Homo sapiens: one gene and its partners. The protein of the gene in region 6 interacts with the protein of the main gene of each other region in a pairwise test. Each region holds a gene or a part of one and is shown on either strand. Other genes may lie near its edges. The genes, in order: IKZF3, KCTD9, HUNK, FLYWCH1, ZNF410, PPP1R16B and SHC3.

Region 1 (4,346 bases), on a different chromosome or scaffold from region 6:
AAGCTGCCGAGGTGAGGCACCGAGTGTCCCCACTCTTTGCAGCACTTCTGTCCCCCTGGCTACCTAATATTGCAAGCAGAAAATAACAAGCAAAAGCAAAATAAGAGTTGGGAGCCGACTGTGTCTTAAGAGATCATGAACTATAGCAGAAGTCCCAGGCTCCTGTGGGCTGGTGGCTCCCTTGTCCCTCTAGCCCCATCCTAGTGTCCTGCTTCTTTCCCTCCTTTCTTGAGGGCTCTCCTCTAACATGCACAGTGGGCATACCTTACCATGTGGCCTCAACTGAACCACATCTCTGCCCCTCTCTTCTGCCTGCTGGCTTTATTTTAACCATCCAAACACGTTGCTGCCGACCAGTGTCCCCTGAGACAGCACCATGGGAAACCATTCTGCCAGGCTTGGTCTTCTTGAGCAGCAGGCAACTTAACTCTCCTCCCTTTTTGAGGTCTCTAGAAAATATTTACAAACTCTCTGCCTTGGCAGTGTTCCCTTTGTAACCCTTTCTGTCACTTGTTCCAGGTGAGAAGCGCCACTGCTTTGATGTCAACTATAATTCAAGTTACATGTATGAGAAAGAGAGTGAGCTCATACAGACCCGCATGATGGACCAAGCCATCAATAACGCCATCAGCTATCTTGGCGCCGAAGCCCTGCGCCCCTTGGTCCAGACACCGCCTGCTCCCACCTCGGAGATGGTTCCAGTTATCAGCAGCATGTATCCCATAGCCCTCACCCGGGCTGAGATGTCAAACGGTGCCCCTCAAGAGCTGGAAAAGAAAAGCATCCACCTTCCAGAGAAGAGCGTGCCTTCTGAGAGAGGCCTCTCTCCCAACAATAGTGGCCACGACTCCACGGACACTGACAGCAACCATGAAGAACGCCAGAATCACATCTATCAGCAAAATCACATGGTCCTGTCTCGGGCCCGCAATGGGATGCCACTTCTGAAGGAGGTTCCCCGCTCTTACGAACTCCTCAAGCCCCCGCCCATCTGCCCAAGAGACTCCGTCAAAGTGATCAACAAGGAAGGGGAGGTGATGGATGTGTATCGGTGTGACCACTGCCGCGTCCTCTTCCTGGACTATGTGATGTTCACGATTCACATGGGCTGCCACGGCTTCCGTGACCCTTTCGAGTGTAACATGTGTGGATATCGAAGCCATGATCGGTATGAGTTCTCGTCTCACATAGCCAGAGGAGAACACAGAGCCCTGCTGAAGTGAATATCTGGTCTCAGGGATTGCTCCTATGTATTCAGCATCGTTTCTAAAAACCAATGACCTCGCCTAACAGATTGCTCTCAAAACATACTCAGTTCCAAACTTCTTTTCATACCATTTTTAGCTGTGTTCACAGGGGTAGCCAGGGAAACACTGTCTTCCTTCAGAAATTATTCGCAGGTCTAGCATATTATTACTTTTGTGAAACCTTTGTTTTCCCATCAGGGACTTGAATTTTATGGAATTTAAAAGCCAAAAAGGTATTTGGTCATTATCTTCTACAGCAGTGGAATGAGTGGTCCCGGAGATGTGCTATATGAAACATTCTTTCTGAGATATATCAACCACACGTGGAAAAGCCTTTCAGTCATACATGCAAATCCACAAAGAGGAAGAGCTGACCAGCTGACCTTGCTGGGAAGCCTCACCCTTCTGCCCTTCACAGGCTGAAGGGTTAAGATCTAATCTCCCTAATCTAAATGACAGTCTAAGAGTAAGTAAAAGAACAGCCATAAAATAAGTATCTGTTACGAGTAACTGAAGACCCCATTCTCCAAGCATCAGATCCATTTCCTATCACAACATTTTTAAAAAATGTCATCTGATGGCACTTCTGCTTCTGTCCTTTACCTTCCCATCTCCAGTGAAAAGCTGAGCTGCTTTGGGCTAAACCAGTTGTCTATAGAAGAAAATCTATGCCAGAAGAACTCATGGTTTTAAATATAGACCATCATCGAAACTCCAGAAATTTATCCACTGTGGATGATGACATCGCTTTCCTTTGGTCAAGGTTGGCAGAGCAAGGGTATAAAGGGGGAAATTGTTTGGCAGCACCAACAGAAAACAAACAAACAAAAAACAGCTACCTAAAACTTCTTGAAAGAGTTCATGGAGAATTGGTGATACAGACCCAAAGCAAATTTGCCAATGATATTTTCCACAAAAAAAGTCCAAAAAGTATGGCTCAGCCTCCCCCTCCCCACAGGAGAGGAATTGGAGATAGATGGCATGTGTGTTTAGATCGGAGTTGAGCTCCGGAATGGGGTGAGGAGGGACACCTCTATTGAGAGGTTCTCCTTGATCAGGCAGGCTTCGGCCCTTTTTTTCCCATTTAAATGGAACTGCTGTATTCCATGAAAATTCCTGAAAGTCTGATCACGGTTCTGCAGATGTATAAGTCATCCTTGTCACTCATAATATGTACATACTATCAGGAGGAGTGCTGTTATCATGGTAAAATTAGCACTGGAATAGGAGGTCACAAAATGCTGGCTAATTAGCTATGTGACTTTGAGAAATCGTTTAACTTTTTTTTTTTTTTTTTTTTTGAGACAGGATCTCACTCTGTTGCCCAGGCTGGAGTGCAGTGGTGCAATCATGGCTCAGTGCAGCCTCGACCTCCCCAGGCTCAGGTGATCCTCCCACCTCAGCCTCTTGAGTACTGGGACAACAAGTGCACACCACCATGTCTGGCTACATTTTGTTCTTTTTGTAGAGATAGGGGTCTCACTATGTTGCCCATGCTGGTCTTGAACTCCTGGGCTCAAGCAATCAGCCCGCCTCAGCCTCCTAAAGTGCTGGGATTACAGGTGTGAGCCACCACACCCAGCCTTATTTAACTCTTAAAACTCAGTTTCCGGCCAGGCTCGGTGGCTCACACCTGTAATCCCAACACTTTGGGAAGCCGAGGCAGGCGCATCATTTGAGGTCAGGAGTTCGAGACCAGCCTGACCCACATGGTGAAACCCTGTCTCTACTAAAAATACAAAAATTAGCTGGGCAGTAGTGGCACATGCCTGTAATCCCAGCTACTCCGGAGGCTGAGGCAGAAAAATCGCTTAAGCCTGGGAGGTTGAGGTTGCGGTGAGTGGAGATCACACTACTGCACTCCAGTCTGGGCGACAGAGTGAGACCCTGTCTCAAACAAAACAAAACAAAAACAAACAAACAAAAACAAAAAAAACTCAGTTTCCTCATCCATAAAATAGGAATTAGATTTCAATGTTCTCTTAGGTCCCTTCTAGCTTTAATTCATATGTGATTATGCAGTAACCACAAGGTATTTTTTAAACCTCCTAATGTATGGATATTAAGCAGAAGAGTATTTATATGAATACATGTTTCACATTCCTTTGGTATGAAAATGGTGTGTTAAGTTTTTCCTTTAACCACTGAGTTGTGAATGTGAAGAAGGTGGTGGAGAGGAACAAAAAACAGAAAGGTATTTTGATCTTGCCACAAAGCATACACACAAATTGGCACATGCAGCTGTTTGCCAAAGCCTTCTTTTTTTTTTTACTTTTTAAGAAATTATGTTAGGGAAAATAAATTCTGCTTCCAGGGACAACTTCATGGAGCCTATTTACAAATTAAGAGTCAGCTTAATTTGTAACATTTCTACCAGAGCCAAGAATCCCAAATTCCTGGTAGATTAGTGTTTTATTTCTAAGGGGCTTATGCATTCGGCTCCAACTCAACTCGTCTATGTGCTGCCAGTAATTAAAATGTTCCACCTCAGACTGCACAAATGGCTTATCCTTCTTTGTGGCATGGCGTCTGTCTCAGGAAAAAAGGTTTTATGAAATTCCATGGCAACAGTCCCAACATGTTTGAGACTTCAGCTAAAGGAATGGATGTATTTTGGTGTGTAGTCTTCAGTATATCACTGTATTTCCGTAATACTAGACTCCAAGCTATGCCAGATTGCTTATTCCCTTTGTGAAAGAGGAGTTGCTCATTACGTTCTTGAAATATCGCACATCCTGTTGGTTCTTCAAGGGACAAGAGAAAGAGAATTTGGAAGCAGGGATTAGTAGAAGAGAAAACGAGGGAAAGGAAGCCTTTCCACCAGATTAGTGTTCAAGTCTTTGCAGAGGAGACCAACTTTTTTTGTTTTCTTTTGTTTTGAGACAGTCTCTCGCTCTGTTGCCCAGGCTGGAGTGCAGTGGCGCGATCTCGGCTCACGGCAACCTCCGCCTCCCGGGTTCAAGCAATTCTCCTGCCTCAGCCTCCCAAGTAGCTGGGATTACAGGTGCTCACCACCAAGCCCGGCTAATTTTTGTATTTTTAGTAGAGACAAGGTTTCACCATGTTGGCCAGGCCAGTCTCAAACTCCTGACCTCAGGT
Region 2 (4,346 bases), on a different chromosome or scaffold from region 6:
ATTCAGTTTTGCAAAATAATGCCAGATTGTTTTTCAAAGTCATTGCAGTAATTTATATTCCCACCACCATTGCATAAATCTTCCCTATTGGTCCACATCCACTCCAACACTTGATATTACCAGTATTTTCCATTTTAAAATTTTCTTTTTTCACCTTAGAGTTAATTATCTCATCTTTTTTTTAAATTATCTCATCTTTTAAAGAATAAGATCATGTAAATATTTAAAATGTATTTGACTAAAAGTATAGGTAGAGAAAATTGAGTTCTGTATTTAGTTACTAGTGGTGATTAGTGGTTTTGTTGGGTAAATCAGCCTGCATAAATTCAACAATTTATGTGTATTGTATATTACATAATGCACAATAAATACTTGTGTATTTATCATAACAACTTTTTGCAAATTAATTTTTTTATTGGACCTTTAGGATCCAGGCAGACAGCCAGATTAGAAAATATTTAGTGATATGGTAAATTGTTTTTGATACTTTATTAGGATTGATTAAAGTGGCAATAAAAGTTGAATTCAAATACACAAATACTTGTGTATTTATTGTGTATTATGTAATAAATCTTGTGGGTATAAAAGAAAAAAATATTTTACATGCATGTGCAGGTTTTAATTTTTAAATTTAAATAATACAGGTTACAATTTGAAAATGGTGTTTAAAGGTAAATTAAAACTAGCCAATCGTACTAGGCATGGTGTTCCATTTACTCTCCAACTCATAGGCAGCTTTCACTTGTCATGGGATCTGAAATTTAAAAATAATTGACTCTGAAAAGTAGTATAATACAGACATCATGAACTTTAATAGACATGCTTCTCAATAAATGTAAAATGCTTCTATTCTTAGGGCCTAAGTTGTTAAGGTAGATAATCCCAGTGACATGGAAACATCAGGCCACATGGTGGAGATAACACATACAAAGTAAATGACCTTTGTAAGCACTATCATTTTATGATTTATTTGGCTCAGTATGAGGACAAAAACAATCTTAGTATATACTAACTGGAGCTTATGTCCATGATATACAAGATTTTTATTGCTCCTCTTTCTCAAAAGAGTTATATAAAGAAGAATGCATGTGCCAGTCTGTTTGCAACTTTCTCCGTAACTTAATCATCTTTTCCATATGTATGACAAATTTATGTTGATATATATATTTTAAAACCTGGTTTCTAATTAGTTTAAAATACAGAGTTTTTGCATATTTGAATATTAGTATTGCAACATAACTCCTTTTTATTTGTATGGTATTGTTAGTATGTGCGAATGATTAGTTGGAAAACAAACGTCAAGAATAGCCCTCCAAGTGAAAACAAGTATATTGGCCCAACTTAAGGGAAATTTTCAAATTTCTAGAACTATAAGATTCTTCGTATTAATTTTAATTCTGTTTTCTCTAATTGACCACCCTTTGGTTATTTCACTTAAAGGAAATTGTTAACTGCCTGATTGCAAACTGCTAAAATAATTTTATTTATAGAACTAGTATCTGGAGCTATGGAGACCTTAAAATAAATTAAAACTTCCCCCCTTATTACAAAAGTAATATAGGTTCATTGTAACAAATTTGGAAAACAAACAAAATAAAGCAAAAAACTTAGCAGGGTGTGGTGGCTCATGCCTGTAATCCCAGCACTTGGGAGGCTGAGGCGGTTGGATCACGAGGTCAAGAGATTGACACCCTCCTGGCCAACATGGTGAAACCCCGTCTCTACTAAAAATACAAAAATTAGCTGGGCGTGGTGGCACGGTTTTACCATGTTGGCCAGGCTGGTCTTGAACTCCTGACCTCAGGTGATCCACCCACCTTGGCCTCCCAAAAAGTGCCGGCATTACAGGCTTGAGCCACCATGCCCAGACTGCTTTAGAATTGCATTTATACTGTGTATTTTTTTACCCTAATGACAGTGTAAGAGACTTAAATGAATATGACTGTCACACAAAAAAGGTGTGTCCTACTTCAACACTCAACATTCAAGAAATATTTGTCAAAGACCTGCTGTAAGCCAGGTAATGTACCATTTGAACCTATGGCGGTTATTAGTAGAACAGCTCAGGAATGTACTTCTTTAGTGCTGCTTATCAGCTTTACCAAGGGATAATTGGTCACCTCTATTCACAGAATTCATAACAACTTTTTGCAAATTAATTTTTTTTATTGGACCTTTAGGATCCAGGCAGACAGCCAGATTAGAAAATATTTAGTGATACGGTAAATTGTTTTTGATACCTTATTAGGATTGATTTAAGTGGCAATAAAAGTTGAATTCAATTTATACCTAGACTGTGCTCCTTAGTAGTTTTACAGCCTACAAGGAAATACCTGTTGTACTTTGATTGCCTTGAAAATAGTCCTTGCCAAGCAGTATGTGTGGTTTTTTTCTATCATCTGGTCACATTTGACTTCAGTGGGGAAGAAACAGAAGATGGCAACATCCCAACCCTCTAAATAAAACAACAAACAGGTCTTGAGTTGTATTTCATCAGTTTGTTACTTTGGGTTCCTATGTCATGGGAAAGCCTAATAGAATTAAAATAGTTGTGTTTTTTTTTCTTCATTTTTTTTTTTCTGCTCTTTAAAATGGCACTGTCTAATAGAACTACTGAGATGATGGAAATTTGTGCTATTCAATATGGTAACAATTAGCCAGTGTGGCAGTTGAGCACTTGAAATGTGGCTAGTGTGACTGAACTGCATTTTAACTTTTAATTTTAATAGATTAAAATTTAAATAGACTCATGAAGCTAGTGGCTTCCACACTGGACAGCACAGCTTTAAAACATGGCAGGTGGCCTTTATTTTCATCGGAAGACAATAGACCCACAGAAAAACCAAGTCAATCATATGGAAGTAGACGACAATTCAAGTTAGTGTATTTTGAATAAGTCATATAAGATCTTAAGCTATAATATTACATTAAGTATTAAGCATAATACAGGCAGGTGCATTCAACTTGCATCTATTTTTTGGTATGGCCAAGAGAGAACAGTGAAAGAGATGCTGAGAGAGAAAGTTGATGTTAGGGCAAGGAGGGGATATCAGGCAAAAGAAAGCCATACTGAGATGTAAGAGCCAGAGGTAAATAAGAGGGAAAAGAAAGATTTAGAAAATTCTTTGTATGATGGCAACTATGCCAAGAACATTGAATTGGGAAAGAGGTGCTTGTGCTTCTTACCCTCTTTTCACAGCACCTTCTGACTGCAGGAGTTGTTTTGCATCTGCTTTGGTCAATCTCTTGCTCCTTTGCATGTTTGCTTCTCTCTTCTCTGTCTTTACTCTCTTCATGCTCTTTGCCTTAACACAACCCCAGCTTTGCCGTGTGCAATGCCCTAGGTACTGTATTTCGCTTCGCTTTGTCCCAGGAATGTGTATAATGCAATTACAGAATACCTCACTGTGTTGCAGAGGTGAACAATCATAGGAAATATGGGGGACATGTTTTAGTCAGGCTTTTTTTTCTTTTTTTTTTTCTTGGAGAAGGAGTCTCACTTTGTCGCCCAGGCTGGAGTGTGGTGGTGTGATCTCAGCTAACTGCAACCTCTGCCTCCCGGGTTGAAGCAATTCTCCTGCCTCAGCCTCCCAAGTAGCTGGGACTACAGGCACACGCCACCACGCCCGGCTAATTTTTTGTATTTTAGTAGAGATGGGGTTTCACTGTGTTGCCCAAGCTGGTCTCGAACTCCTGAGCTTAAGCAATCCATCCGCCTCAGCCTCCCATAGTGCAGATTTTACAGGCGTGAGCCACCGCGCCCAGCCCTACTCAGGCTTTAATTATTTATGGCAAGCCTGCTGTGTGTAGGACACTGTGCCAAGTGCTTTGCAGTATTTTTTTTATTGTGATAAAAGATGGAACAAAATTTATTATTTTAACCATTTTTTAAATGTGTAATTCATTGACATTGTTTACATTCACAATGTGTGTAACCATCACCACGGTTTATTTCCAGTACTTGGTCATCATCCCAAACAGAAATTGTAACCATTAAGAAATAAGTCTCCATTCCCATCTATGCCTTGGTAACCTTTATTCTGCTTTCTTTCTCTATGAATTTGCCTGTGTTGGGTACTTTCATGTGAGTGGTATCATAGAATATTTATCCTTTTGTGACTGGCTTATTTCATTTAGCATACTGTCAAAAAGGTTCATCCATGTTGCAGCATGTGTCAGAATTCATGTCTCTTCTCTTCTCGCTTTGCTTTCCTTTCCTTTTTCTTTATTCTTTCCTTTCCTTTCCTTTTCTCTTTTCTTTTTCCTTTCCTTTTTTCTTTTCCGTCCCATCATGTCCAGGCTGGAGTGCAGTGGCGTGATCTTGGCTCACTGCAGCCTTGAATTGG
Region 3 (4,346 bases), on a different chromosome or scaffold from region 6:
TAATACACTCGATTGGCAAAGATCAAAATGAGTACCCTGTTGGCTGACATGTGGAAAAGCAAACACTCCCATACCAGATGGGTGTGGTTATAAGTTGGGAACCCTTATAAATTATAAGGGTTATCAATGTGATTATAAATTGCCAACCTCTATGGCAGGCAATTTGGCAATACTTATCAACAGTTAAAATAGACATACCTTTTGGCCTAAGACTAGGAATTTACCCCTCAGATACACTGAGGGGTCACATTTACAAAGTGACAAATGGTCATGGATATTTACTGAAGTATGGTTTGAGAATAACAAAAAAAAAAAAATTATGTACTCCCTAAATGTCCATCAACAAGGGATGGTTAAGTCAACATGATACTTCCACACAATGACTACTATGCAATAACTAATTAACATAAAGAGTGAGGCAATTCTGTAGTAGTCATGGGGAAGAATGCTCAAGACATATTGCTAAGTGAAAAAGCAAGATAATGAACAGCATGTACAGTTTAAAAATACATCTGCCCTGGTGGGTGGGAGGGATGGATGAAGAGAAGCTGGTTCATGGGTACAAACATACATAGATAGAAGAACTAAATTCTAATGTCTGTTAGGGTGACTATACTTAGTAGCAATACTTTGTATATTTCAAGGTAACTAGAACAGAGGACTTGATATAATACCAACCCGTGGAAATGAATACTTAGGTGATGGACACGCCGATACTCTGGCTTGATCATTACACACTCCATGCATGGAACACTCACATGTACCCCATAAATATGTAAAATATTATGTATCAATAAAGAAGAAAAATCTGCCCCTAACTACGCATTTACAAATATGTATGTGGGTCTCTATGCATATAGGGTATCTCTGGAGGGATACACAAGGACTAGAAGGAGGAGTGACCTCTCACGAGAAGATCCAGGAACTGAAGAGCCCAGATAAGAAGCAGTTACCTCTCACTGCAAACCCTCTCAGAACCTTTGAATTTCAGACCATGTGTCTGTATTACCAATTCCAAAACTTAACCAAATGCATCTTGAAAACACAAAGATGATTAAAAACCAAAAAGAACCCAGTGATTAGAAGTTGCATAGCTAGGGCACAGTGGCCACCGTAAGAGTGCTAAGAGGATGTTAACAGATGGCTCTACCCTGAGTAGTTTTTTTTGTCCATGAGAATGTCCCAAACTGTTACTCTACTCATCAAAAATCCAAATTCCCACAACTCCTTCAACAACTTTTCCCACCACTCACGAGTGATGGGGGAGGGGGGGTCTCTTCCCAGGAAAGTGCCACCGTCTCTGAAGTAGGCATGCTGGCCCACAACTTGGCCCAACACTCAGTTGCCCCAGAGTTCTCAGGAAAAAACCCATAGAGCATACATATAAAGTGAGCTTTCAATCTTGTAAGTACTGAGAAACACAACAGAGCCCTGATGATTCTAACCTAAGAGAAATGTGAGGCCAGAAAATCCCCCAGCGTGTGGCACATAGAATCTGCTAATGAGATGCCACGCCGGCTGCTCCCTCATTGCAGGGAGAGAGACCACAGTCGAGCAGCAAGGTAGGGCAGGCTGAAGAGAAGCTGGTTCATGGGTACAAACATACATAGATAGAAGGACTAAATGCTAATGTTTGCTACGGGGACTATATTTAGCAGCAATAATTTGTATATTTCTTTGTTGTTGTTGTTGTTGTTGTTGCTGCTGCTGTTGTTATGGAGTTTTTGCTCTTGTTACCCAGGCTGGAGTGCAGTGGCACAATCTCGGCTCACTGCAACCTCCACCTCCTTGGTTCAAGCGACTCTCCTGCCTCAGCCTCCCGAGTAGCTGGGATTACAGGAACACACACTTGGCTAATTTTTTTGTATTTTTAGTAGAGACAGGGTTTCACCATGTTGGCCAGGCTGGTCTCAAACTCCTGACCTCAGGTGATCTGCCTCCCTCGGCCTCCCAAAGTGCTGGGATTACACGCGTGAGCCACCACGCCTGGCCATACTTTGTATATTTCAAGGTAACGAGATGAGAGGACTTGATACCAACACATGGAAATGATGACCACTCATATCCAAAATGCGCATGGAAAAGATGCCCACGTTGTCTACGGTCCATATGGTATGGACTCAGATGAAAAGCCCTGGACTCTGACCCTGTCTCTTTCAGTAAACAGCAAATGCTGGGCTGCACCCCCAGATTCCCCGTCAGTGCTGAAGAACTGACTGCCTCAGCTGCAGGCTATCAGCTGTGAGCTCTCCCCAGGAACCGCCCTCAGCAACTGTCCCGTACGAGGCCATGCCCCTTGCCTGGGCAGCCCCCATCAAGGACTGGCCGATGCGGAAATATAAATCCCAGTCCTCTCAACCCAAGTTGGTCAGCTCTGAAGGGCCAGCTCAGCTCCAGCACTCACCACGGCATGGGCAGGGGCTTTGGCTGAGAGCGGTATTGGAGCCCAGCTTCTCCCTCTGCCCAGTGCTGCTTTGCCCCTTCCCTTGCAGAGGTCAGTTCTGAGAGTAATCCCTAAAAGCACATTCATCTCCTTCCCAAGATCCGCTTGCCACAACCCAATACTGACAGTCTAAAAAGGTGCTGGAGCTTGAACTATGCTCCCCCAAAAGATACCTTCAAGTCCCGTTGGTACCTGTGGATATGATCTTCTTTGAAAATAGGGACTTTGTAGATGTCATCGAGTTAAAATGAGGCAACACTGGATTAGGGTAGACCTACATCCCATGACTGGTGTCCTTATAAAGAGACATAGGAAAAGATTAAGAGACAGAAGAGACACTCAGAGGGAGGAACACTGTGTGAAGACAGACGCAGAGACAGAGCGCTGCAGTCATAAGCCAGAAAATGCCAAAGAGTGCTGGCCACCACCGGAAGCTAGTAAGAGGCAAGGAAGGATTCTCCCTGTGGCTGCAGAGGGAGCATGGCCCTGCCAACACCTTGGTTTTGGATCCTAGCCTCCAGAACTGTGACAGAATAAATTTCTGTTGTTGAAGCCACACAGTGTGTGGTAATTTGTTAGAACCATCCTAGCAAACTCATAGAGAATGTCAGAGAGAAGATCTACTCAGGGCACCCTTCTACGTAATCAAGGCAGGCAAGAACACCAGCAAGCTGGCTGTTACCCCCTCCACCAGGGCTGCTGCAGGCATCTAACAAGAATGTGCACGGGAGGGGCACCCTGAAAAAAACCGTAAAACACTGTAGCACTGGGCTGGTGCTGGTGATGGAGGAGAGGGAACAGCTGTCTCGAATTCACAGAGGCATCCCCCTCCTCGGGGACTATTCAGTCCCTGTGTTTCTAGCTCTTTCCTGCTGGTCATCGTACCACCCAGTGGCACCTCCTATCAGAAAGCGTGAAATTCAATTCAGGTCAGTACTTAGACCAGGGCTGAGTAGAGAAAGAAGTTTCACCCATCAGCTAACATAAGGCCTGGGGATTATCTACGGGTTTCAATTAGCCAAGAGAGCAGGTCTCTCCGTTACCATAAATAATCGACAGAGGGAATATATGTCCCAAGGCAAATGATAACCCTGTGCCCAAGCCTCCTTCCCATGGAGAACACCCCAACCTGTCCCTCTCTTCGGGGGCACATGGCTGCCACTCCCCACCCCTTCTGGGCAGATAAACCCTGGGACAGATGATTGCCGCGCTGACCTCCAATAGCTGGCAGCATGCAGAATTCTATAGTCTCACAGACCTGAGTCGGATTGGTATGCACGGGTAGCTATAGCCGTGACTCAACACCTGCAGAGAAAATGTAGGGTTGTACTCCTCTCCGTGGGCACCGTTTCTGCACTGTTGCGCTGACTCAAAGCACCCTTTGAAGTCCGTGGGACCTGTATCAATGAACACTAGGAACCAGGCCCTACGTGCCAATTTCCATCATTCACAAGTACTTCAAAAAGATGAGGCAGGGCAGGAAGTTCAAAAGAATCCGCCTGCAACTGCAGAATGCAATCCTCGAAATTACAGGCACTGCCTTGTCACACAGGGCTCACCAAGCAGGTGCTTTGCAAATGCCTCCTTCTTGCCAAGAAGTCCCTGCCAAGGATTAATAGGAATTTCCAGTTCTCTAAGCATTTCTTGTTCCTCAGAGCGATTACCCCTAAACTTCTAGCACTTCAAAAATACAGGATTTAGCACCTGTTTGTTTCAGAAATACTTGCTAAAAACAGATCTGCCAAAAGGCCACCTCTAAAATTAGTCATATTTCTTGCTCTGCAAAACATAGTAAATCGTATTTTTAGTAACTCCTTCACTCCAGGTATCTGGCACTGTCATGCTCTAAGCATGATTACTGGCAACTTAGTAAGCAGGCAACCCTTACTCTTAGCCTAAAAAT
Region 4 (4,346 bases), on a different chromosome or scaffold from region 6:
GCAATGGAGCCATCTTGGCTCACTGCAACCTCTGCCTCCTGGGTTCAAGTGATTCTCCTGCCTCAGCCTCCCGAGTAACTGGGATTACAGGTGTGCACCACCACACCCGGCCAAAACCAATCTTTAGAAAGCATTGTGTGTCTCACTGTCATTCATGTGAATATTAAGGGCCATGTCCTGTATAACAGTAACAAATCCAAGTTGGCCAGGCACAGTGGCTCACGCCTGTAATCCCAGCACTTTGGGAGGCTGAGGCAGGCGGATCACCTGAGGTCAGGAGTTCGAGACCATCCTGATCAACATGGAGAAACCCCGTCTCTACTAAAAATACAAAATTAGCTGGACATGGTGACGCATGCCTGTAATCCCAGCTACGCTGTAATCCCAGCTGCTTGGGAGGCAGGAGAATCACTTGAACCTGGGAGGCGGAGGTTGCAGTGAGCCAAGATCGCGCCACTGCCCTCCAGCCTGGGCAACAAGAGTGAAACTCCATCTCAAAAAAAGAGAAGAAAAGAAAACAGCCTGGCCAACATGGTGAAACCTTGAAAGAAAACAGCCTGGCCAACATGGTGAAACCCTGTCTCTAAAAAAAAAGTTTATAAATCAGCTGGGCACAGTGGTGCACGCTTGTGGTCTGAGCTCCTCAGAAAAGGGGAGGATCACTCTAGCCCGGGAGGTTGAGGCTGCAGTGAGCCATGCACTGCAGTCCAGCCTGGGTGACAGAACAAGACCCTGTCTTTACAAGAAATTTTTTTGAGAAAAGGATTTCTTTGAGAAAGCCACTATCGAGCTTACAGAGAAAGTTGTGCTGGAGGCCTGGCCTTTCATCTTTGATGTCTAGTTGACCCCCACTATTTTCCATGACAGCAGCTGAAGGTCAACTCTTAGGAGCTCAAGTAGCTGCTGTTACCTGGGAAGGTAATTGATGCGTTGAATTCCCAGCGTTGCTTCACCCGGTTGTCTTTCTCCTCACAGCCTTGAGGGCGTCGTTAACAAGGTGTGTGTCCTTGGTTCTGTCAGCTTCAACAAGAGAAGAATTATTAATTCATATTTTCAATTATTTTTCCACAGAAAAGATTCAAGTTCAGCTGTGCTTCAAGACGTGTTCTCCTGAAAGCCAGCAGATTTATGGGTAATTGTATTTGTTATCTAATGGTGCATGACCAATTACAACAAAACGTAGTGGGCTTAAAACAACAAATATTTGCTGTCTCAGCTTTTGTGGGTCAACATTATGGGAGTGGTTGGGCTGGGTGGTTCTGACTCCTGAGGTTGAAGAGAATTTGTCAGCCAGGGTGGCAGTCATCTGAAGGCCCAAGTGAGGCTGGAGGCCCTGCTCCTCACCATAGGGACCCCTCCTTGGGCCCACTTGAGCATCCTTCACATGACAGCCATGGGACAGAGAGAGAACAAGAGGGAAGCTGCCAGCAGCAGAATTCAGGTTCTTCTCAACCACAGCCAGGCCATAAAGCAAGAGTCCATTATTTTATTTTTTGAGATGGAGTCTGTGTGTGGCCCAGGCTGGAGTACAGCGGCATGATCTCAGCTCACTGCAAACTCTACCTTCCGGGTTCAAGCAATTCTCCTGTCTCAGCCCCCTGAGTAGCTGGGATTACAGGCATGTACCACCACACCGAGCTGATTTTTGTATTTGCAGTAGAGATAGGGTTTTATCATGGTGGCCAGGCTGAGTCTCAAACTTCTGACCTCAAATGATCCTCCTGTCTCGGGTCTCCCGAGTGCTGGGATTACAGGCAAGAGCCACTGTGCCCAGCCTTGTTATTGGTTTGTAATTACATCCCACTATGGTCAAAGAACATACTTTGTATCATTTCAGTCCTTTCACGGCTGGATACAGTGGCTCATACCTGTAATTCCAGCACTTTGGGAGGCCAAGGCAGGCAGATCATTTGTAATTCCAGCACTTTGGGAGGCCAAGGCAGGCAGATCATTTGAGGTCAGGAGTTCGAGACCAGCCTGGCCAACATGGTGAAACCCCATCTCTACTAAAAATACAAAAATTAGTCAGGCATGGTGGTACATGCATGTAATCCAAGCTATTCGGGAGGCAGAGGTTGCAGTGAGCCAAGATTGTGCCACTGCACTCCAGCCTAGGTGACAAACAAAAACCAAATCAAAAACAGAGAAATTTGGGAAACTCAGAAATACGTAGAAATTAAAGAACACACTTATAAGAAACCAGTGAGTCAGACTGGGCATGGTGGCTCACGCCTGTAATCTCAACACTCTGGGAGGCAGAGGCAGGAGGATCACTTGAGCCCAGGAGTTTGAAACCAGTTGGGGCAACAGAGCATGACCCTGTGTGTAATTTAAAACAAACAAAACAATGAGCCAAAGAAGATAATTATAAAATACTTTGAAATAAAACTTATGGGATGCACTGAAAGCCGTGCTTAGAGGGAAATCTATAGCTAAAAACACTTCTATTAAAAAGGAAGAAGCCTGGGCAACATGGTGAGACCTCGTCTCTGCCAAAAACTCAGCCAGTCATGGTAGCATGTGCTGGTAGTATCGCTTGAACCTGGGAGATTGAGGCTGCAGTGAAGCATGATTGTACCACTGCACTCCAGCCTGGGAGACAGAGCAAGATCCCATCTCTAAATGAATAAACAGGGCCAAGCATGGTGGCTCACACCTGTAATCCTAGCATTTTGGGTGGCTAGGGTGGGAGGATCGCTTGAGCCCAGGAGTTCCATACTAGCATGGGCAAGACCTCATCTCCACAAAAAATAGAAAAACTAAAAAAAAAAGAACTAAAAGTCTGGGCGTGGTGGCTCACACCTGTAATCCCAGCACACTGGGAGACCGAGGGAGGTAGATCACGAGACCACGGGTTCAAGACCAGCCTGACCAACATGGTGAAACCCCATCTCTACTAAAGATAGAAAAATTAGCCAGGCGTGGTGGTGGGAGCCTGTAGCAGGAGAATTGCTTGAACCCAGGAGGTGGAGGTTGCAGTGAGTCGAGATTGCGCCACTGCACTCCAGCCTGGGCGACAGAGCAAGACTCATCTCAAAAAAAAAAAAAAAAAAAAAAAAAAAACTGAAGCAGAAGGAAGGAAATAAATAATAAATGAAACCAAAAGTTGGTTCTGTATAAGGATCAATAAAATTGACAAATATTTAGCTCTATCTACAGATCAAAAAAATTGAAAAGCAAGAATACTGAAAATACTAAAATCAGGAATAAAGATGAGACCTTACTATGGACCTCATTCTGGCAGAGTCTCATTCTGACACCCAGGCTGGAGTGCAGTGGTGCCATCTCAGCTCACTTGAACCTCACCCTCCTGAGTAGCTGGGACTACATGCACGCACCACCACGCCTGGCTAATTTTTCTATTTTTAGTAGAAACGGGGTTTTCCCATGTTGTCCAGGCTGGTCTCCAACTCCTGGGCTCAATCAGTCCACCTGCCTTGGCCTCCCAAAGTGCTGGCATTACAAGCATGAGCCGCAATGCTTGGCCCCAGCTCATTCTCTAAGACCAGTATCACCCTGATATCAAAACCAAGCAAAGGAATCACAAAGAGAAAACTACAGACCAGTATTTCTTAGGAACGTAGAATACCAGCAAACAGAATCCAGCAACATAAAAAAGGATTATATACCATGACCAAGTAAGATTTATCCCAGGAATGCATCAACATGCAAAACCAATTAATGTAACACAGCAGGCCTGAGACTGCTGCCCTAAGAACAGCCTGTGTGCAAGGTTCACCCTTGGCTGGCATCTGGGAACTTTTTTTTTTTTTTTTTTTTTTTTGAGACGGAGTCTCACTCTGTCGCCCAGGCTGGAGTGCAGTGGTGTGATCTTGGCTCACTGCAAGATCACTGTGAGTGATCCCAGGTAGCTGGGATTAGAAGTGCGCACCACCACGCTCAGCTAATTTTTGTATTTTTAGTGGAGACGGGGTTTCGCTATGTTGGCTAGGCTGGTCACGAACTCCCGACCTCAAGTGATCCACCCGCCTCGGACTCCTAAAGTGCTGGGATTACAGGCATGAGCCACCACGCCCAGCTGGCATCTGGGAACTTGACTGGTAAAGAGCTCCTATGTGGATACAATACTATCCCCAAATAACAACTGCTCACTCTTTTCTATACAAATCATGTGATATTTGCTGAACACTTGCTTTTCTTCTGAGCCTGGCATTTCGGTGACCATATTCAGTCACGCAGGCACAACGTACCTACATGAGCAACCCCCAGTGAAAACCCTGGACTCCTGGGCTCAGGCAGGCTTCCCTGGTAGAGAACACTTTGCACATGTCACAGCTCGAGGCTGGAGGATTCAGCACATTCTGCGGGAGGGGACCCCAGGGGAG
Region 5 (4,346 bases), on a different chromosome or scaffold from region 6:
TGGGATTACAGGCGGCCACCACCACACCCAGCTAATTTTTTGTATTTTTGATAGAGACGGGGTTTCATCATGTTGGCCAGGCTGGTCTCAAACTCCTGACCTTAGGTGATCCACCCGCCTCGGCCTCCCAAAGTGCTGGGATTACAGGCATGAGCCACTGCGCCCAGCCTAAACTGGCAGTTTTTAAGTGTAGTACGTTCCAGTCTTGGGAGAAGTCAGAGAATATGTTTTAGAGTTTAAGTTGAGATGGGAGGGATGAATAGACATCATCTTGATGGAGAAGTAGGAGTTGGAAGAATATAACAGGCAGAAGGACAGCAGTGTGTACAAAGGTAGAAGGTAAGGGAGTAGAGGGCCTCTGTGGAACTGTAAATAGGGTTGAGTGTGATGGGACATGGGATGAAGAGATGGGCTGGAGAGGAAAATTGAGAGCTGGAAAGATAAGCTAGTCTCTTGAAAGGTCTTACAAGGCATGATTTTATCCTGGGGGCACTGAAGAACCACTGCATGGTTTGAAGTAGGGTATGACGTGATCAGATTTGTGTATTCAGAATATCCAGTAATAGTACATTTGTTCCCTAGAACCTAGGCACAAGTCTTGGAATTGGCCTCAGAGCATCCATGTATAATAGGTGCTGCCCACTTACAGCCTCAGGGAGACAGCATAACACAGGCTGCCTAAAAAACGAAAGACCTGGGTGTGGTGGATCATGTCTATAATCCCAGCACTTTTGGAAGCTAAGGTGGGAGGATCACTTGAGGCCAGAAGTTCGAGACAAGCCTGGACAACAGAGCAAGATCCTGTCTCTACAAAAAGTTTTTTAAAAAATTATCCAGGCATAGTGGTGCATACCTGTAGTCCCAGCTACTCCAGAGGCTGAGGCAGGAGGATCAACTTGAGCCCAGGAGTTCGAGGCTGCAGTGAACTATGATTGTCCCACTGCACTCCAGCCTGGGAGAGATCCTATCCCAAAAATCAAACAAAAAAAGGAAGTATGGTCTTCACTCCAGGAAGGCACAAAACCCAGTTTCATAATGGAAGCCCAAAACACTTAGAAAAATATTAACAACACAAAAGGGAAAGTGCTGTCCTGGATGTAGCTCAAAATCCTGCACTGTCACTTTTTCCTCATGGGTTTTTGTATATTTACAAACATACCCTCTGTCTGAGCCTCACTTCTTTTGTGTTTTCTTCACTTTTAGCATTATTCTCCTCCTCGTATCACAGGCATTTCCACTGCTTATCCCCTCCTTTTCTTTCTTCACTAGTTTGGGTCCTCCAATACCTTCAGTTTTTTTTCAAGCTGTGAGGCCCTCAGGGTTCCAGGCTTAGGCCTCTTCCTCATCCAAGGTCTAGGTAATAACTTGCTATTTCTCCAGTGAGTGAGGAATGTTGATTCCTTAAGAACTTTCAGGTGCCAGAGAAGGTGAAGGCTATTTGCAACACATGTCCGTTTCACCTTTTTTGGAGATCACCAAGCAGTATGGATCAAAGTCTACTGATGAACTTGTACTTCCTGTAAATATGCTCTAAAAATAAAAATAGCTTATCAAGAATATCAGAGAACAACCAAATCTGTTATCAGAAATTTTCATGAGAGGCTGGGTGCGGTGGCTAGCACTTTGGGAGGCTGGGGTGGGAGGATCAATTGAGCTTAGGAGTTTGAGACCAGCCTGGGCAACACAGGAAAACCCCATGTCTACAAAAAATAAAATAAAATTAGCTGGTCCTAGCTACTTGGGAGGCTGAGGTGAGAGGATCACTTGGGCCCAGGAAGTTGAGGCTGTAGTGAGCCATGATCTTGCCACTACACTGCAGTCTGGGTGACAGAGCCAAACTCTTTAAAAAAAAAAAAGAAGAAAAATTACCATGGGAAAAATATCAGAAACTACAAGTCACCTCTCTGGTTCAGGTGGACAATCTCTATTTTCCCTCATTATTGTGCCACATCTGAGAATTAGATGGAGGACTCATTGCACAGGCCCAACTGGGAACCCCAGGGCTTTTGGGCTGTCATACTTACTAAAGGTCATTCTAAATGGGGCTCCATATTTACATTGAGTTCACATTCTTGAACTCAAGAACCAGTATAAGAGATTCCCAGCTAGTTTTGACTACCTCTTAGAATGCTTTCCAAATCAAGGCACAAATAGAAATTACAAATTCTATAATATTTCTCATAAAGTACCTTTGCTAAGTTTGACTGCAAAGATCTGGATCTTGGCCTCCATTAAAAACACACTATTCTTAACTTTCCTGCCACACAGCATCAAATGGAATATGTGGTTTCTTTAAGGTTTAATTTTTTCTTTAGATTTTGTTTAAAAGTCTTTAAATTCCATATAATTAAACTCTTAAAAAAAAGTTTTTTTGGTGGATACAGTGTCTTACCATGTTGCCCAGGCTGATCTCAAATTTCTGGCCTCAAGCAATCCTCCTCCCTCAGCCTCCCAAAGTGGTGGGGTTATAGGCATGAGCCATGGTGCCCAGCCCAATCATTAAATTCTACTGTATAAATTACCTTCATCCAAATTAGGATCACCAAGTAAATACATCTCAAGCTGAAGAATTTATTTGATTAGATTTTAATAAGTTGTTTTTGTTCTGAATTTTACTGAATTGTTCCCATCTCATTTTTGTGTGTCTGAAAACAGTCTCAGTCTGTCACTCAGGCTGGAGTGCAGTGCAGTGGCATGATCATAGCTCACTGCACCCTTGAACTCCTGGGCTCAAGTGATCCTCCTCCCTCAGCCTCCCAAGTAGCTAGGACTGCAAGCATGTACCACCATGCTTAATTTTTAAAATTTTCTTGTAGAGACAGGGCCTCACTGTGTTGCCCAAGTGGGTCTCAAATTTCTGGTCTCAAGCAGTTCTCCTGCCTCAGCCTCCCAAAGTGCTGGGATTACAGATGTGAGCCACTGCACCCAGCCTCATTTTGTTTTTATATTAAAATGGAAGCCAATTTCATTATTTCAAAACTCCTTTGAATAGAGCCTTGTGTATAGAGTAGAATGTTAGTGGTAGTTGCCATTATGCAGGAGTCCCTTAGGCTTATCATTCTTTTAAGCCCAAGGAACCCCTAGATCTTTTATGAGTGGGTTTCAGCTCTCATATAGTACTTATAAAGGAACAGCTCCTCTTCCTATTTCCTTCTCCTACTTGAGCCTTCAGCCTATCCTTTGGCTGACACGTATAAGATTTTGGTTCCACCATTTCTGTTTTCCCTGTAAGTTAGAGATTCCTCTGTCACTGACTGATGAGTAGGTAACTACACAAACAATAGTTTGGCTTATAGACTCAGAATATTTGATTGCCAGAGTTAAAATGCCAGCCTTATGACATGGCTAAAGTGCTGTCCCAAGGCCACAGTGACATCTATCAGTCCGTGCATGTGTTTGCTTTGGAAGTAGATAGCCTTCATTCACCCCTGTAGTGCATTCTCCATCCTCCACTCTTAATACTTTTTACTATGAATTATTTTTTCTATAATTCAACTGTAACCTATTCTAGATTTGCTTTCAATCTTTTACAGTTACTAAACCAAGGAGATTTAACTGAAAGACGGACATGAGCGTGGGTGCTGACTCCTGGAAGAGCAACTCTATCTGATCTCAAAATGCGTATACTGGGAACAGGATGCCTTAGCCCACAACAGAACCAGAATGAATCTTTGAAGGCACAAGACTCTGCTTTTGCCACTCTTCCTCTTTCCTGGTATAGAAGATGGATGTAGGAGAGCTTCTTTTCTAACTACCATCTGATCAGACAAGGAATGAAGCAATGACTGTGGGCTGGGAAACTGTACCTACCTCTCTTCCCACTGCAAATTTCTGGGATAGACCAAAAGTGAATTTGATTATGTGTTGGCTGAAGTTCTTCATTCTGACTGTTGAGGGGAGGTTTTCCTTTGAAGAGTTTTCATCCCAGACTCAGCTGTCTTTTCACATGGATGAAATAATTCCTGCTACCAACAACAGAGCTTCACCAGGAAGTTGAGTTTTCAAGATGCCTTGTTGCTTTGAAGAAGGGAGTGATGTCAATTCTCTTGTTACATTCTCCCTTTAGCAACCTGAGTAAGAGACTCTCTGCCACTGGGCTGCAAAAAAATAAATTACTTGAATCTCCCCTTGGCCCAGGCTGAGGTACTATCTTGTCCTATACACTTCTACTTGGTCACTTTGCTTTCTTCGTTAATGGAACATACAGTAGCATGTTAAGAGGGATTTCATGTTTTTGTTTTTTTAAAGTTAAAAATTACATGATGCAGAGATTCAGGTTTTCCTTTAAATAAACAAAACAGCCCAGTCAGTTCTTTGGCTCTTGTTTTATACAAAATTTGTTTTCT
Region 6 (4,346 bases):
CAGGTGGTTTTTCCTTAAAGCCAGAACCTTTCTCCTTTCTGCAGAGCCCATTTGAGCCCTTTGGAAACTAGGCCTATGTGTGATGGCCTCACAGAATCCTCACAACCCCGTGAAGTAGGCATTACTGATTCCCATTTTGCAGATGGGAAAACTGGGGCTCAGCTCCTCTCAAAACCAGCTCCATGCCCCAAGTGTAGCAACAGAGGCTGCAGCCAACCTGGTTTAGGAGAAGGCAGAAGGCACATACCTGAATTCAGGTGCTGTGCTTGGACTCTTGGGACCCCATCCCCCCAACCTTTCCCTCCCCTCTCCCAACCTAGCCACCACCCCTCCTGCACCCAGGACTCTTGTCACATTTGTTGACCAGGAGGTCCCAACTGGCACTCTTCCAGCAGAGACCAGGAAAACCTTCACTGTCCTGAGTGCATCTTAGCAATTGGGCTTCAAGAAGGGCTCGGACAAGCCTGCCTCTTACAGAAAGCTACGAGTATGAAGAGTGAGGGAGCCAGAGAGGTCTAATTTTAATTAGGGATCTATACCTAAAAGCTCTGTGACCCTGTATACATGACTTAATCTCTCTGAGTCTGGTTTTCTCATTTGTAAAATAGGTATCACAGTAATGCCTACTTTGTGGGATTGTAAGGATTCCATGAGACCATTAACACATAGAAAGTGCTCAGTACTAGGGTGGAGCATAGTGGCTCACACCTGTAATCCCAGCAGTTTGGGAGGCCAAGGCGGGAGGATCACTAGACGTCAGGAGTTCGAGACCAGCTGGCCAACATGGTGAAACCCCATCTCTACTAAAAATACAAAAATTAGTGCAGCATGGTGGCGCATGCCTGTAGTCCTAGCTACTTGGGAGGCTGAGGCACGAGAATTGCTTGAACCCGGGAGCAGGAGGTTGCAATGAGCCGAGATCACATGACTGCACTCCAGCCTGGGTGACAGAGCGAGACTCCATCTCAAAAAGAAAAAGAAAAAAAAAAGTGCTCAGTACAGCATCTGGTGTGGGTAGGAATGCAGGAAATGATCATTGTCACCATCACTACTATTTCCTCCTTTGTGTTGGACTCTCAAAGGTCCCACCTCCTCCAGTGCTAGGGTGGGGAGTGAGTGCGACCCTGTCTCTTCTGCCTGTAGCCATCAGGACGGGGAAAGCCTCTCAGCCTGTCTCCTGGGGCGGGGGTGGGGGCTCACTCCTGGGAACTTGAGTCTAGCACCAGCTTTTCCCCGGGGAGTCTGTGAGCAGCCACTTAGCCTTTCTCAGCTGACTGCCATTTTCCAGGATTCATTGATTCATTCAAAAGACGTTTATTCCATCCCAGCCCTTGTGCTTAGCAAGGGATTTCAAGATGAATGAGGCAGCTCTCAGAGTTCTCCCTCTATGGGGAGAGGCAGGCCTGGAGACAGATAATGAGGACACTGTGGGATAAAGGCTGCAACAGCAAGAAGAGAGAGTGACGAGCAGATCCACATGGCTCAGGCTGACCCAGGTCTGAATCTTGAAGCTGCCACCTTGTAGCTGGGTGAGGATGGACAGAGGCCTTACCTCTCAAGCAGATAAGCCACCTCCCTAAGATGATGATGTGAGGAGAGAAGTGAGACACTGTGGATAAAAAACCTAGCTTGGACCAGGTGCGGTGGCTCATGCCTGTAATCCCAGCAATTTGGGAGGCAGAGGTGGGCAGACTGATTGACTCCAGGAGTTCGAGACTAGCCTGGGCAATATGGCAAAACCCCGTCTCTACAAAAAATACAAAAAATTAGCCAGGCATGGTGGTGTGCACCTGTAGTCCCAGCTACTTGGAAGGCTGAGGTGGGAGAATCACCTGAACGGGGGAAGTGGAGGCTCCTGTGAGCCATGATTGCGTGCACCTCTGCACTCTAGCCTGGGCAACAGAGTAAGACCTTGTTTCGAAAAAAAAAAAAAAAAAAAAACAAAACCAAAAAACTTAAAAACCCAGCTTGGGCTTTCTAGATATTAATAAGTGCTCACAGATGTTCGTTGCTATTATTAGTCTATTATTGCCAATAACAGGTGGGCAAAAGTTGCTGTGGGAGCATGTTGAGCCCTTCAGTGACAGTTTTCCAGGTGGTAGGGCAGCCCTAGCCGGGAGAACAGCATGTGCAGAGGCACCGAGGCTTAAAAGTGCTGGATGTTTTTGGAGAGCAGTGGGAGGAGTTGCTGATGGAGCAGAGTCATGAGAAAGTTTGATGGAGGCAGAAGCAAGGCCAGGGAGGTAGCAGAGGCTATCCTGCCGGGAGCCCCGAAGGATTAAACACTCACTGACCCGAGGCAGTCCCTCTGCACCTTCCTTGGAGGGTGGTTCTCTAGTGAGGGTTGTCCAGGAAACTTCAGGATTAACTTTTGCATGGGAGGAAGGGCTGGTCTCTGCTCAACTATCCATACATTCACCATCCTTCCCTCTTCATTCCACCCAGGAAGCACGAAGAAGAAGAGGTCCACTCCCTCTTCCTGAGATGCTTTTCCCACCTCTGCACTTGTTTCTCTCTTCCTGGGACTCAGTTTCTCACCTGAGAGAAGAGGGTAGAAGTGGAGGAAGCGTCATGACCTGACTCACTGATTGATCATGATATAGCACCAAGTGCATTTCTGGATGCTGGTCACTGTCAAAGGTCTTTACTTGCATCGCCATTGAATTCTCATACCAATCCGTTGAAATGAATGCACTTATCCCCCACTGCACAGAGGGAGAAACCGAGGCACAGAGGGTGAGGCAATTTGCTAAAGGGCATGCAGCTTGTAAGTGACAGGAACTCACGTCTTGGGGGGCATCTCAAAGTTGCCATGTGCTATCCTTCACCACCTTCTTCACACACTTTGTAAATCTAAGGCTGACTGCAGAATATCTGGCCTCTTTTGCTTTGTGTACCTTTGGGCGCTGGGCAGTAGGCATTTTGGAGATGGGTCACAGTGGGGTGTGCTCTGGGTATGTAACCTGACTTTGGGGAAATTCCTGGGTGCAGACGCTTTGTGGGGAGGTGTTCTTGGATGTCTCAGAATCTAGAATGGCATTCCTTCGCCCACAGATGTGCCTTGATGCAGGCAATGTGCAGCTTGATTGATGTGGCAAGATGGTGGCTGAGCCCCACGGTGGCCCCAGGAAGGAATGAATGAATCTTTTAGGATGGCTGATCAGAGCATCACATGACCACAGACCCTCCCTGTTTCAGAGGACATCCAAACACAGGCTTACATTTCCTTTTACATGGGGGCAAAGTTTGGGGCCAGGGTTCAAATGCTGGCTCTGCCTCCACTGGCTTTGGGGCCTAGGGAAATTTTTTCACTTCCTTGAACCTTAATTTCTTCATCTGGAAATAAAGATGAAGAAATAAGTTGCTAATTTTAGCATCTTCAATAAGTTGCTAAATAGTAACTCACAAACACAATTCTGAATTGTCATAAGGATTTGTAATCATATGGAAAATGCTTGGCTTCCAAGCTGTAGATAATATTGATGTAATATCCAGCAGATTTTTCTCTGCAGTACTTATAATTGTGATTATATGGTTATATGTGAGCATTACTCTTTTAGTCTTCTGTTTCATCCACTAGACCTGTGGTTCTCAACTTGGGGCAGTTTGACCCTCCCCAGGGGATATTTGGCAATGTCTAAAGACGTTTTTGGTTGTTACAACTTTTCGGGGGATAGTGGGGGAGAGGAGCTACTGACATCCAGTGAGTAGACACCAGGGGTGCTGCTAAATATCCTGTGGTGCACAGGAGAGCACCCCCACAACAGAAAATGATCTGATCCCAAATATCAATAGTGCTGAGGTTAAGAAAGACTACACTGGACGATGAGCCCCATAAGGTCCGTGACTGTGTCCAATTCATTCAGCTGTGTGTCTCCAGTTGGCCAGCGTGATCAGCATGATGTCCAGCACACAGGAGACAATCAATATGCATTAAAGGAATGAATGAGGACTTGGAAGGCCTTATGTCCCCTGGAGTCCCAGGGGTTTAGCTTGTGGAACATTTTGAATAGGCAGAAGAGATTTAGATGAACTTGAATGATGAACAGCCAATTAGTAACTCAGGCCAAAGACATTCAGACCGAGCTCTCTGTTTTCCTTCCCAAGCAGGTGCTTGGGGGCCCAGATTATCTGAATTGTTCCTGCCATCACCACTGCATTTTACCCATGTAGATACAGGACCCGTCTTTATCTGGAAAGTAGGCTGGGGCAGAGGAGCATAGGTGCTGTCAGCTGGGCCCTTGGGATTTGCCAAGCTGGGGCACAGCTGCTTGTCAGCTTCCTGTTTTGTCCCTTTCTAGTGGAATGAAGGAAACCCACTGAATGGCTATTTTCCACTGACATTT
Region 7 (4,346 bases), on a different chromosome or scaffold from region 6:
GAACCAACTCCTGCCAGCTGGATTGAGCTGGCTTCAACACACCACCGCCCATAGGGTATGAAAGACACCCTCTTTCCAGAAATGTGAATACCACAGGGTGTTCTTGCGAACATGTTTACGTAAGAAGATTGGAGACAGGGCGCACACACAAAAAGACTCCGAGAAGGATCTGAACAGGCGTTCTCCGGCAACTAGGTCTGGGTGTCACTTTCACCCAGGGTCTGGGTGACAGAACAGCCCGGGCCCAGCCTCAGCACACCCACTGGCTAGCTGTGAAGTCCTGTCAAGGCACTAGGTCTTTCACACTAGGTCTCGGTGACAGAACAGCCTTGGCCTAGCCTCAGCACACCCATTGGCTAGCTGTGAAGTCACATCGAGGCAGCATCACTGCCTCAGCAGAGGGGGCTCTTCACTTGCACACCCACCCTGGGCTTCCTTCACAGACCCAGGGGCAGTAACTGCAGCCCTATTTTATAAGGAAGGAGTCTCTCTCAGTTCCTTAGGAGGTACAGAGCTTCTATTGTATTGCTTGAATGAAGTTAATTTATAAAGCATTTGCTTATATTTAAAAAGAAAACAAGAGCAATTAATATAAGGCTTGTGGTCCTTCTGCTCAGTTATTTGATCTTGGAGCATTTGTCAAGGAGAGGAGGTCAGGCATGTTCTGCCTGCCAGGCTCCTGCGGTCTTGGGGCAGCAAGGGCCAAAATTTTTGCTAAGGCCATCACAGTGGAGCCATCAAGGTGTCCACCCTGACATTGGCTGGCAGACCCCATGCTGATATGAAGGACTGGAAAACATCCTAGCTGGGTCACAGCAGTGTGTGGTGACAAGCTCAGAAGAGGAGAATATCACCCATAGGAATCCGAAGGAGGAGGTTTCCCATTTGCAGGCAGAAGAGCTTCTTTGTGAAAGGCTGGGTGGCTTGAATAGTGTCACCATCGTAAAAGAAAAGGGGCTCACTTTCTTGTTGCAGGGTCCTCGGACATCTACAGCACGCCAGAAGGGAAACTGCACGTGGCCCCCACGGGAGAAGCACCCACCTACGTCAACACTCAGCAGATCCCACCACAGGCCTGGCCGGCTGCGGTCAGCAGTGCTGAGAGCAGCCCAAGGAAAGACCTCTTTGACATGAGTGGGTTTCTGTTTGTCTCTGGTTTTCTTTTCTTTTGAGGTTGCTTTTTATCCTGCCTTTTATTTGAAATCTGTGTAATTACTGAATTTTCTGATAGTAGGGTTTTGGTTAATGGTGATGATTAGCTGTACTTTTCTGGGTGATGATTGGGTTTGTTTAAGGCTTTAGGATTATAGCCCTCTCTGTAGTCAAGAGACAGAGCAATTTCCCCCTCTTTTTGGAATTGACGTTCCTCTTGAAGATCTGCAAATGTATTGAGACAATATACATACACAAATGTTTATTTATTCATTTAAATAGTAATTGGCTATTATGTGCCAGCTACTGTATTAGTTGCTAAGGATGCAAAGATGAAATGGCATGGCCCGTGTTTCCACGGATCTCTAGGTCTATGAAGCAGACCAACATTTAACATATAGGCAAGAAATTGCAACACACCTCTCTCTTATGAGGGTTTTCTCTCTCTTTCTCCTCTCCTCCCACTTGTGCTCTCATTTTTTTCTCTCCTTTTTTCTCTCTTGCTCACCTTTTACCTCACTCCAAATATTTACTGAACACTTACCATTTGTCAAATACTATTCTACTTGATGGAGATATACAGGAAAACAAAACCAGCAAAGTCTCTACCTCGTGGAGGTATCTATTACCAGGTAGTGGTACATGCTCCTCAGTTATGAAAACTAAACAGGATAAGGAGAGTAATAGGAATCTATTGCAGATAGCATTATAGTGGGATGTGTACCACAGACTTTCTGTTTGTCATATAGACTGAGGAAATTAAATCGTTCATGAACTGATTAATGAAAGTGAAAATTTTTGTTAAAAAATTTTGAAAGAGCATCACAAGCTCACAAGAGCTAAATTTGCTTTTCATATTCCTCGAGAATTTTATAGGCTGAAGAGGGAGGGAATGGAGACTAGTTCTGAATGATTTTCTACCATGTGCTAAACACTTATTTTTAAATTTTTACAGGTAGGTATTACGATAACTACTGTTATCTTTATTTTACAGAGAAGGAAACGAAGAATCCTAGAAGTTAACTAACTTTATCATTTGTGAAAGGCAGCCTTGCTGGTCCAATATCTGTGATTTGTGGTATTTTGTATGAGTGAGGACAGTGTTAAGTGCCTTTATAATTAGGCAGCCTCATGAAAACAACACTGTTTCTCTCCAGCAAATTTGACTTCCCAGACACACTGGACCCCCATTTTGACTTAACAAAAATAATCTAAGCAAGAACTGTAGAATCTTAATGCTTGAAGCCACCTTCAATGCTAGATCACCTAATTCAGTCCCGCCAGTGCCTTTATTTTTAAAAATGTGAAAACAGCTTGAGAAATGTGAAGCCACTTTTTCAAGATGCAAAGCACAGTGGTGGCTCTCCAAGCTTTTGCTGGAGTTGTTATAGTACCTCCAAACTGCAGTTTAATAGTTCCATGTCTGGTTAGACCATTTTTACTGTTTAATATAGTCAATTTACCAATGACTCCTGGACACGGACCCTAAGGAAAGTTAGATTGGCTGGTGTTTGGGATGAAAAAATGAGAACCAGAGCTACCCTTTTCCCACCAGTTAATTTCTCCTCCTGCTTTCAAAACCTAAGGAGGGGAAACAGGATGTGAAAAGAGCCTTAGAAAGGCTGGTGCCTATTGAAAAGTATGGAACTAAATAAAGCCAGCACTCTGTGTTCTTTATTTTGAACCAGTAGATCTAAATATAGCGGTGCTGATGTGATGATGGTGGTGATGATGGTGCTGCTGCTGATGGTAATTTTGATGGTGGTGGTGGTGGTGATGGTGGTGGTGATGATGATGATGGTGATGATGCTGCTGATGGTGGTGGTGTTGATAGTGATGATGATGGTGATGATGATGGTGGTGATGCTGCTGCTGATGGTGCTGGTGGTGGTGATGATGGTGGTGATGATGCTGATGATGGTGCTGGTGGCAAAGGTGGTGGTGGTGATGGTGATAATGGTGGTGAGATGGTGGTGATGCCGATGGTGGTGGTGGTGGTGGTGGCAATGGTGATGGTGATAGTGCTGATGGTGCTGATGGTGGTGATGCTACTGCTGCTGCTGTTACTGCTGCCGCTCCTGTTGCTGCTGGTGACAGTGATGGTGATGATGATGGTTATGCTGGTGACAATGATGGTGATGATGATGATGATGACAATGGGGATGATGGTGATAATGGTGATGATCCTGATGATGCTGATGGTAATGGTGGTGGTGATAATGGTGAGGGGATAGTGATGATAGTGTTGATGGTGGTGATGCTATTGCTGCTGCTGCTGTTGCTGGTAGTGACAGTGATGGTGGTGACAATGATGGTGATGATGATGGTTATGATGGTAACAATGGGGATGATGGTGATAATGGTGATGACGATGGCGACGATGGCGGTGATGCTGATGGTGGTGGTGGTGCCAATAAAAGTGAATGTGGGGATGGTGGCGATGTTGGGGATGATGCTGACGATGTTGATGATGTAGATGATAGCAAAGGTGGTAATGATGTAGAAACAGTATAAAACAAATGACAATTCCAGGTAATCAGGAAAAAAGTCAGATGAAAAAGAACTTCCACAGACATAATTTTTGCCAATGGTTCTAACTTATTTTTATCTCCAAATCTGTCAAAGATTAATAAGCATCAAAAAGAGCTAATTTTAGTTTCATTTACTCACCTCACTTCTGCCCACGCTGTACTAACATCGAACAAGTTTGGCTTATTTTACAGCATCTGTTGACTATACTGAATGAACTGTGTGCTAGGAGCAATGCTGGGCTCTGAGGGTGTAGTTATGCTCAGGAAAGAACCACTCCTGTTCTTGTGCTGCTTATGTTGTATGTATGTGTATGCTTATGGGTAGACAGCGTAGTCTGAAATAACCATCGCACTACCTTCCACTTGCATAGCACTGTGCATTTTTCAGAGTCCTTTCATACACACTACCTTATGTGAAAATCGAACATCGGGATTTAGTTAGACATGCCTGGCTACTTCTTTTGCTGCTGGTATTTCTTGTTAGAGCAGCAGTCTCACCATTCACACATGCCTTGCACTGAGAAGTGTGCTCTGAAGGGGATGAAACCAAGTATGGTCTCAGGCACTCATGTGAGAGCCTCGTTCCACAGGGAAACAAGTGAAGGTTAAGGGAAGGTGGAGCTCCTAGCCTGGGGCAAGTCACACAAGAGGAACCCAACACCC

The links.
Region 1: the proteins of PPP1R16B (region 6) and IKZF3 interact in binary tests that used the Homo sapiens proteins (3 or more experiments, as listed by UniProt).
Region 2: the proteins of PPP1R16B (region 6) and KCTD9 interact in binary tests that used the Homo sapiens proteins (3 or more experiments, as listed by UniProt).
Region 3: the proteins of PPP1R16B (region 6) and HUNK interact in a two-hybrid assay, tested with the Homo sapiens proteins (one large-scale study listed by BioGRID and IntAct).
Region 4: the proteins of PPP1R16B (region 6) and FLYWCH1 interact in binary tests that used the Homo sapiens proteins (3 or more experiments, as listed by UniProt).
Region 5: the proteins of PPP1R16B (region 6) and ZNF410 interact in binary tests that used the Homo sapiens proteins (3 or more experiments, as listed by UniProt).
Region 7: the proteins of PPP1R16B (region 6) and SHC3 interact in binary tests that used the Homo sapiens proteins (3 or more experiments, as listed by UniProt).

Annotation. Positions count from the first base shown.
Region 1 is NC_000017.11:39,762,667-39,767,012, reverse strand, and holds part of IKZF3 (zinc finger protein Aiolos), read left to right. Parts: intron 1-519; coding exon 520-1,223; 3' UTR 1,224-4,346. UniProt on the Homo sapiens protein: Transcription factor that plays an important role in the regulation of lymphocyte differentiation. Plays an essential role in regulation of B-cell differentiation, proliferation and maturation to an effector state.
Region 2 is NC_000008.11:25,448,054-25,452,399, reverse strand, and holds part of KCTD9 (BTB/POZ domain-containing protein KCTD9), read left to right. Parts: intron 1-1,918; exon of another isoform or gene 1,919-2,020; intron 2,021-2,729; exon of another isoform or gene 2,730-2,877; intron 2,878-4,346. UniProt on the Homo sapiens protein: Substrate-specific adapter of a BCR (BTB-CUL3-RBX1) E3 ubiquitin-protein ligase complex, which mediates the ubiquitination of target proteins, leading to their degradation by the proteasome.
Region 3 is NC_000021.9:31,878,991-31,883,336, reverse strand, and holds part of HUNK (hormonally up-regulated neu tumor-associated kinase), read right to left. Parts: intron 1-4,346.
Region 4 is NC_000016.10:2,938,961-2,943,306, forward strand, and holds part of FLYWCH1 (FLYWCH-type zinc finger-containing protein 1), read left to right. Parts: exon of another isoform or gene 1-1,020; intron 1,021-1,071; coding exon 1,072-1,132; coding exon of another isoform or gene 1,133-1,136; exon of another isoform or gene 1,137-1,201; intron 1,202-4,346. UniProt on the Homo sapiens protein: Transcription cofactor. Negatively regulates transcription activation by catenin beta-1 CTNNB1, perhaps acting by competing with TCF4 for CTNNB1 binding. May play a role in DNA-damage response signaling.
Region 5 is NC_000014.9:73,927,970-73,932,315, forward strand, and holds part of ZNF410 (zinc finger protein 410), read left to right. Parts: intron 1-3,533; coding exon 3,534-3,572; 3' UTR 3,573-4,346. UniProt on the Homo sapiens protein: Transcription factor that binds to the sequence motif 5'-CATCCCATAATA-3', and is specifically required to silence expression of fetal hemoglobin in adult erythroid cells.
Region 6 is NC_000020.11:38,808,066-38,812,411, forward strand, and holds part of PPP1R16B (protein phosphatase 1 regulatory inhibitor subunit 16B isoform 1 precursor), read left to right. Parts: intron 1-4,346. UniProt on the Homo sapiens protein: Regulator of protein phosphatase 1 (PP1) that acts as a positive regulator of pulmonary endothelial cell (EC) barrier function. Involved in the regulation of the PI3K/AKT signaling pathway, angiogenesis and endothelial cell proliferation.
Region 7 is NC_000009.12:89,038,814-89,043,159, reverse strand, and holds part of SHC3 (SHC-transforming protein 3), read left to right. Parts: intron 1-975; coding exon 976-1,134; intron 1,135-4,346. UniProt on the Homo sapiens protein: Signaling adapter that couples activated growth factor receptors to signaling pathway in neurons. Involved in the signal transduction pathways of neurotrophin-activated Trk receptors in cortical neurons.